Linked DNA regions of Homo sapiens: region 1 is linked to region 2. Evidence: fine-mapped expression QTL. Tissue or cell type: monocytes after LPS. Region 2 holds a variant in brackets; the other region holds the start of a gene. All regions are shown on one strand. Distances are from middle to middle.

Region 1 (4,390 bases), 64 kb before region 2:
ATCTGGTAACAAGAATGCATCAATATCCATTTGAAATAATTATCTAAGAATTGTGAAATTCAAATTTCAACAACATAAAATAACTACCAAATCACAAACTCTGTTCAAAATAATACATTTCATATAAAGCACTTCTCTGGATTTACGCCTGAAAGCTGTTTGTCAAAATGGAACACGTCATAGATGAAGGTACACCAGTTTTTAAAAATGTTGTGCAAAAATACATTTTTATAGAAAATAGACTACCAGGAATGAACAAATTTACACTGTGAGAAATCAGCTTGCAAATTAAGTAATGCTCACTTTATACAGCAAATTATAAATAGCAGTAAAATCACCCAAAGCTATCATGAAACATCATTTAGGTGCCCAGCAACCTCCAGCTCTGAGAAAACATTCAAAAAGATGATTAAGGCATTACACCTACAGTAAAATCTACTAGCAAGTTTGAAAGTGCTATTACCCTGATTAAAGTTCATGTGATTCTCCAAACACAAGTTATATATGCAATTATTCCCAGGGTGTAAGGTTTTGAGACATTTCAAGAGCATGCATTTTGTTCAATATACATTTTAGACAAGGATATGGCCATAGATTTGGCAAGTTCTTCGTCGCGTTTCCTTTGCACTTGAGTTTGTTTGCACCAGTTGTCGTACTCTGGGTTAGGATAGGAGTGATCAAATACAGCATCATAGTGTCCGTTACTGAGCCAACTGAGCCAAATACTAGGCCTCAGGGAATCCTCTGGGCCCAAATAATGAATCATGGTAGACACCGTGGGACTCTCCAGCCTCCCTCCAGTAGTTAAATGGATATTCACATTCAGCATCTGCCCCATGGCCAGCAACTCCGGGTACCCGGCCCATGCCCCGTCTTGGGCAGCAGCGATGATAAACTCCCCCACGTCGCCCTCAATCAGGGGGCTGAAGTGGTCGAGATGGTCGGCGATGTAGTGCACCGTCTGCTCCCTCAACTCCCGGTGCAGGCTCTGGTCCCCATACACCGTCTTGCTGACAGCTCGGTAGAGGCAGTTGCCGTCTGGAATGATGTGGAATCGGTACTTATTCCTCTGCCGCAGATACTTGTCCTGCTTCTCCACCTCGGCCAGGTATAGGGCCAGCTTCTCGTCTCTGGGATCCGACCTGGAGACGATCACCGGCTCCGCCGCACTACTCGGGGCGGCCTCGATGCTCCCGGCGGGGGGTGCCTCGGCCTCTGGGTCGGGCCTCCGCGCCGCGTCCCCACCGGGCGCGTCGCAGCGATCGCCGCCCCTCTCCCAGCCCCTGGGGCCCCTCTCCGCCAAGTGCTCTTCGCCCCACGGACCGGGGCCGGGATCGGGGCTCCCCGGGGTCGCCGCGGGGCCTCGGTGCTTGGCGGCGGCCAGGGCCTGGCGGTGCTCGCTCAGTCGGAAGTTCCGATCGGGCCCCTCCCGTGTCGCGTCCAAGCCCGCGGGCTCGGGGCAGTCGGGCCGCAGCAGCTCCTCCAGGAGCCAGGCCGAGGAGCCCCGCCGCGGCGGGACCGGGGCTGCGGGCGCCGGGGCGAGCAGGAGGCAGCGGCCGCGCGGGGCAGCGGCGGAGCCCGCGGCGCCGGGAACGGGATCGGGCCCGTGCAGCAGGAGCCTGTCGGCGCCCAGGGCCCGCACGGTGATCTGTGCGGTGGACGTGTAGTGCGGCGGCAGCGGCGGCTTGCAGGACGCGCCGGGCGGGCCGGCGGCGGCGGAGGCGGGCGCGGCGGCCCCGGACACCACCTCGAAGCAGGAGGAGAAGGCGGGCATCTTGGCGGCGGGGACAGCGGCGGCTTCCCGGTGCTCGGCGGCCGCGGCGGGCTGGCACTCACCGGTCTCGGGCTCGGGCGCGGCGCCGGCGGCTCCCGGGGGCTGCAGCGAGACCTTGAAGGGGGTAGCGGCGGCGGGTGGCGCGGGGGCGGCGGCCGTGGGACCCGGGGCCCCGGCGGGGTAGTGGGTGCAGACGCTGCTGTAGAGCTGCATGTCCCTGCCCGCCGCTCGGCCCCTTATAGGCGCGGCGAGCCCCGGAGCGGGGGACACACCCTCCGGGCCCGGGGGAGGGGGCCGGCGGAGCGCGGTGACCCAACGGCCCCAGAATAGAGATGAGCGAAAGGCAGCCGGCCGCCGCGAGTCAGCAGCCGCGAATAGCGCCCGGGTCCCGGCCAAATTCCTGCTGCGCCACAGCGCAGGGGGGCGGGGACGGGACGCGAGCTCGACCCCTGCCGGTGCGCTCGGCCCGCAGACCCGGGGCGCCGCGCCCGCTGCAGCTGCTTCGGCCCGCGGCGGCCGCTGGGGACTCACGGAGGAAGCCGCCCGCCCCGTTGGAGCGCGTCCCGCCGGCGAGGAGGAGCGCGGTGCGCGCGGAGGCCCGGGAGGCGGGGCCGCGGTTGTTTACCTCAGGCCTCGCGGCCGCGTCACGTGGACTCACTGGAATGCGCGGCTCTTTGCGGCGCCCGATTCAGTCGCGCCTGCTCGCCCCGCCCACTCCGGCCCGCGCCCCGCCCCCTACCGCGCTCCGCCGACGTCACGGGCGTGGCCCTCGGCGCGCGAGCGCGCGCGGGCGGGGCGAGGCCGGGGGCGCGGAGGCCTGAGCAGTCCTGGGATCCTGGCTGGGCCTCCCGCCCACGTGACTCCCACGGACCGCTTCCCCCACCTGGGCACTGGGCACTGGTTTCTGCGCTGCGCCACTCTCCTCAGCGGCTGCAGTGGATGCTGCGGGATGGGAGCTGCTTGGGGCGAGTTAGCATGCTCGGAAAGCTTGCGTGGCAGGAAAGCTTCCGGCATGGGTGTGGAGAACGGAATGCTGCCTTAAAGTCTGTTTGGCCTCTGCTGGTCATGGGCTACCATCCCTGCTTGCATTCACTACTGCCTCTTTTCTTTTATCTTTTTAGAGATGGGGGTCTTACCTGTCTCCGAAGCTAGAGTGTAGTGGCGCAGTCCATAGCTCACTGCAGCCTTGACTTCCCGGGCTCAAGCGATCCTCCCGCCTCAACCTCCAGAGTAACTGGAAACCACAGGTGTGCACCACCGCACCCGGCTAATTTTCTTTCTTTCTTTCTTTCTTTTTTTTTAAGGCGAGGGTCTCACCACAGTTGCCCAGTCTGGTGTCGAACTACTGGCCTCAAGCTGTTTCCCGCCTCGACCTCCTAAAGTGTTGGGATTATGGGTCCTAGCCACCACTCGTGGAACCGCCGCGTCTTTTCCTTTTTTTTTTTTTCTTTTTCTTTTTGAGGCAAGGTCTTGCTCTGCCTTCCAGGCTGAGTGCAGTGGCGCCATCATGTCCCACTGCGACCTCGACCTCCAGGGCCCAAGTGATCCCCCTTCCTCAGCCTTGCCTTGGGCAGGGATTACAGGTGCCCAGCTAGTTTTACCACTGTGTCTTTTCTATGCATTTCCTTGGACTCACCGGTAAGGGTGAGTCCGCTAGTGGATTCTCTTGCCTTGCTAAGACAAAACCAACTTTGCACCTCTGACCTATGCCATTTGGCAAATATCTGGCTTGGGGGAAAGCAAGGAAGCCTTTTAGGCTTTTATAAACAAGCTTTCTCAGAATACCAAATGCAGTATCACTTAGGGCCCTTTGAGAATAGGTGTGAATGCTAGCCAGAGGTCAAAAGCGGTGGAGAAAGTCGTGACCTGCATTCCGGGGCAAGATAGACTATAGAAAATACTTCTACCGAGTCTTTTTGTAATACCCGCCTTTGTAAGGGAAAGCCAGAGGTAGTGGGAGACTTTTGCTATATTCTGAGCTGTGATCAAATGCTAAATTAACAGGGCCTAAACATTCGAATTGAACCCAGAGGTTGTCCTAACATTTTAGAGATAGGGAGACTGAACCTGTAGGTGATGTAGGCTGTACTCCGGTCCCCACCTTTCCGGTGGAATGTGAATTCCAGGAATTGAGAGACTTGGGTCTTGCTCTTATATTTCCATCCCCTAACACCGTGCTTGGCACATAATTGGACCTAATTAATATTTACTAAGTGAATGAGTAGATGGAAAGCGAGTTTCCAAGGTTTGTCAGACAGTGGTGAAGCCAAGATTACTATCCAGGTCCCTTGACCCTAGCCAGGGCTTTTAATTATCTTTGGGCAGTATGACTGGCAGGGTCCCAGCTCAGGTCACTCCAGCCGCTTATGTAAATTAACTCAGAAGAAGGTAAATGACTGTCTAACTTTTCAAATTCTGGTAACTACCCCATTGGGAGCTTGAAGCTCTCATGGCTAATTAGAAAAAGGAAATTACCATCCTTGGATTTCATCACTGATTTGTTGAGCATCTGTTGCTCTGTGCATGAAGCACTTCACGCTTAACTCTTTCATTAGCTGGTGTTCTGAAACAGAAGACAAGACTGTTAACAAGGCCGTCACCAAATAATATTTACCA
Region 2 (4,390 bases):
TATATGCTATAAATATATTTTCATTGTTACAAAATCATTTTAATGCCTGTATATTATGTCATGGCATAGGTATACAACAATTTATTAAGGAAATTCGATTTTGAAAACATTCGGGGTTGGGTGCAGTGACTCATGCCTATAATCCCAGCACTTTGGGAGGCTGAGGCAGGTAGATCACTTGAGGTCAGGAGTTTGAGAGCAGCCTGATCAACATGGTGAAACCTCATCTCTACTAAAAAAAAAAAAAAAAAAAAAAAAAAAAAAAAAAAAAAAAAAAAAAAATCCGGGCATGGTGGCACACGTCTGTAATCCCAGCTACTTGGTAGGCTGAGGCAGGATAATCGCTTGAACCCAGAAAGTGGAGGCTGCTGCAGTAAGCCAAGATCATGCCATTGCACTCTAGCCTGGGCAACAAGAGCAAAACTCTGCCTCAAAAAAAGAAAAAGAAAAAAGAGAACATTTGGGTTTCTAGTTTTTCAGTGTTATAAGCCATATGATGCAAACAGTCAGTTTGGTGTATATTTCTATAGAATATATTTTTCATCTCTATATATAGGTCCCCAGGTAATGTTTAATCCTTCTCTTAGGTTATATTTGATAGCTCAGAGTTCGTCAGTTTACAGACTTAGGTTGTATCATTTTTCTTTAATTGCATTATTTAACATTTGTCCTTAATTAAAGCTCCTGTGCCACTTTTCTGCCCACAAATGTGTCCTCGAATTTTTTCACCTTCATCGATTAGTTAATTCTCTACTTAGTGAGCTTACCGTATCCACAAACTTCAGAGCTCCTGGTATACCTAGTCTTCCAAATCAATTATAACACTATCAAAGTTGTTTAGCTCAAGAATTGAAGCTTTAGATTATTTTCCATGGCTGCTCTTTAAATGCTTTCCAAAACAAACCATTCTGTGGTGAAATCCTACAATAGTAAGTCATTAGAGCTGAGGGGATCTTTATAGATCTTATTAAAATCTTCTTACCAGAGGCCCTGGGGATTTGAACAATAGATACAGTCTCTCTACCCCTGTCTATACTTATTTACCGTCTCAAAAACTTTTAAATTAATAAGACTTGATTTCCCCTTTATCTTCCCTTCTGAAGGCCAAATGCCTCTTGCCCCTTTCAGAAATTGAGGAGTCATTTCTGTGTATGCTGCACATGTGACACTGTGTGTGTGCGTGTGTGGTGTATGTGGGTATGTGTCTGTGGGGGAAGGGTATGTGTTCATGTAACAAGTTGGATAAAGCATTGGTATTTCTTATATAGTTGGAAATTCCTATTTTATGCCATGAGCTTGTCATATGAGCAGGCCTCAAACTAAAAGGTCAAATAGACAAGTTCCTCTTCAGTTGTTTTGCTTCTGGGAAACCCAGCTCCATCCCTTGGGTCTGAGAGGAACTGAAAAAGCAAAGTCCCACAAAGCTGTGAGTGTTTCAATATTATCCCTATTGGAGCTGTGGCATTAAAGAAGATGTATCAGAAGGTATGACGTCATACTAACTGCTAACACTGCGGATTTTGACCATCAGCTAGAATAAGTCATATTTACAAGTTTCACATCAGTCATTTACTCAATAAGCATTTAGTGATTATAAAACTGCTTTTGCAAAATTATGACAATGTGTAGGGAAACACTCTCCCCAAACTGTTTTTCCTCTACTTTCACACCAGAATAATCACCAACACAGGGGAAGACTTCTGTGACCAAATGTCGGAGGGGCATTCCCCACACACCAAGCAGTGGACACCAGCTGGGTTTCCTCTAGTTCAGTTCTGACATTATCTACCTGGAGATAGCATCAGATCCCACAGGTGGGCTCAGTTCCCAAGACTGCCCTTCCACACACACAAGTCACAAGTCCAGGCCTCTGGAACTTCTGACAAACCAGCTTCAAGTTGGG[G/C]TTCCCACAACCCCCTCTTTGGGTTTAATTAATTGGAGGGAGCAGCTCACAGAACTCAGAGAAACACTTACCTACGTTTACTGGTTTATTATAAAGGATATTGCAAAGGACACAGATGAAGACGTGTGTAGGGAAAGGTAAGGGGGAACAGGCGCAGAGCTTCCATGCCCTCCCTGGGTGCTGGTCTCCAGAAACCTCTACTGTTCAGCTATCTGGAAGTTCAATGAACCCTGTCCTCTTGGATTTTTATGGAAGCTTCATGACATCAGCATTCCTTCCCTCAGGGCATAGCGTGGGATGTTCTCCTGGGAGGGTCTTAAACAATTGGAAAGGCAGGTGAGGGGGTTGGTGATGGTTGCGGGGGTGGACATGACACATTAGAGTGAAAGGAGGGCAGGAGAAGGTCAGAGACCTGCCTCTGAGGCCTAGCACACCCAACATTCTAACAAAAGGCTGTAACAGAGGCTACAGGAGTTATGTATGAGCCAGGAACCATGGGTGAAATCCAATATATATCATAATGTCACAGACAGTAAGAAATCTGACATAGTTGATTCCATCTTGCTTCTGGCTTCCCAGCTGTCCTTGGCCATTCCTGGGTAGGCCAAACTAACTTTGGGAGGAATCTAGTTTATGGTTTAATGTTAAAGCAAAGATGATAGCCCTTTCCAAAACTAAGCCATCTTTGTAAAACTAATGAAAGGCTACAATGTTAGGCTTATAGAGAGGGGCCTGGATTCCAATAAGATAGGCATGGTTTCTTTTATTTATTTACTTATTTATTTATTTTGAGATGGAGTCTCATTCTGTCACCCAGACTGGAGTGTAAATGGTGCGATCTCAGCTCACTGCACCCTCTGCCTCCAGGGTTCAAGTGATTATCCTGCCTCAGCCTCCCAAGTAGCTGGAACTACAGGCACATACCACCATGCCCAGCTAATTTTTGTATTTTTAGTAGAGACAGGGTTTCACCATGTTGGCCAGGCTGGTCTCGAACTCCTGACCTCAGGTGATCTGCCTGCCTTGGCCTCCCAAAGTGCTGGGATTACAGGCACAAACTACCAAAACTGGCCTCTGGATAGGTATAGTTTCTACAATCCCTTACTGCTCAGGGTTCATGTGGCTAGAGGTCACAAGATTGATGACTTTCCCAATTGCTCCTGTAGATAATGTCACTGTCATAGAAGCTAGAATTGGTTTTTTTGAGCTATCTTTCACACTGACTCCACCTGGGGTTGTGACTCATGACTCAATGGATCCTGTGACCTGACCCAGAAGTGGACTCAGCCCAACCAATCAGTATCACCCATTCCCCAGCCCCTTCCCACCAAATTGTCCATAAAAACCCTAACCCCCAAGCATTTGGGGAGACTCATTTGGGTGATAGCTCCAGTTCTCCTGCATGGGTTGGCCTCACATCAATTAAACTCTTTCTCTACTGCAGTGCTGTGGGCTCAATGGATTGATTTTGTCTGTGCAGCAGGCAGGAAGAATCTGTTGGGTGATCACAATTACCCTGCATGGCTAAGCACTGTACTAACTGTTAGGGATACCCAGAAGTCCTTGCTTTCAAAGAGTGTGTGATTTAGCAGCAGAAGGAGATATAATTGTAACACATTATAATAGGGTAAAACTGTAACATAATGGGTCAGTTGCCCAATGTGCAAAGCAATGTGCTGAGACACCAGGTTGCATCAGAGAAAGAGGTTTCATTGTAGGGCTGCCAAATGAGGAGACAAGAGGAAACCTCAAACCAATCTCCCCAAGGAGTTTGGGGATAGGGTTTTCAAGGGGTTTGGAGTGGGCTGAAGTGTGGAGATTGTTGATTGGTTCTAGAGTACAGGGTAAAGTTGCGGGACAGGGAGATGAAGAAGCTGTATTCTCATGCTTATTTGGTTCCTCTGTTGGGGGTCTTTAAACTGGTTGGTGTAAGTGATTCTGTCAGAATTCAGGATCTGCTTAAGCAATTTCTTTTTCTTTCTTTCTTTCTTTCTTTCTTTCTTTCTTTCTTTCTTTCTTTCTTTCTTTTTTCTTTCTTCTTTCTTTCTCTCTCTCTCTCTTCCTTCCTTCCTTCTTCTTTCTCTTTCCCTCTCTCTCCTTTCTCTCTTTCTTTCTTTCTTTCTTTCTGTCTGTCTCCCAGGCTGAAGTGCAGTGGTGCACTCTGCTCACTGCAGCCTTGACCTCCCAGGATTAAGTGATCCTCCCACCTCAGCCTCCTGAGTGGCTGAGACTACTAGGCATGCATCACCATGCCTGGCTATGCTTAAACAATTCTTAAACAAAAGCCTTATGATTCTAACATAAGAGATCCTATCTAACATCAGAAATTCTATCTATGGGAACATGGAGATGCAAATGGTCAGTATCTAGTGTTATGTGACCAGGAAGAAAGTGGGTCAAAGTGCAGCCTGATTAATGCTTAATTATAGTTATATTTCTGTCCAGAATTCTTGTTAACCTGTGAGGATGGCTTCAAGAGTAGGCATA

Direction of the effects. Positions count from the first base shown, and alleles are read on the strand shown. Sizes are in standard deviations (SD) of each study's normalised expression.
For the expression in monocytes after LPS of the gene that starts at base 2,370 in region 1, allele G in region 2 goes with a higher level than allele C (large effect, 0.92 SD a copy in Quach 2016).

What was found. PIP is the estimated chance that this variant, and not a neighbour inherited with it, causes the effect. A credible set is the group of variants that fine-mapping cannot tell apart.
Region 1: OTUD1 starts here. The variant in region 2 is the best candidate, but not a certain one, in a credible set for the expression of OTUD1 in monocytes after LPS (Quach 2016, PIP 0.64).

The regions. Positions count from the first base shown.
Region 1 is chr10:23,437,055-23,441,444 of GRCh38, reverse strand. It overlaps OTUD1 (OTU deubiquitinase 1), which reads right to left and starts at 2,370. Exons shown (of 1, transcript NM_001145373.3): 1 at 1-2,370. The coding sequence starts at 1,987. The coding sequence ends at 542. RefSeq lists silencers at 1,152-1,521, 1,662-2,001, 2,052-2,641.
Region 2 is chr10:23,373,398-23,377,787 of GRCh38, reverse strand. No RefSeq gene overlaps it. Among named protein-coding and RNA genes, the nearest start is that of C10orf67, 31 kb to the right of the region's middle. The variant G/C (reference allele first, on the strand shown) is at 1,904.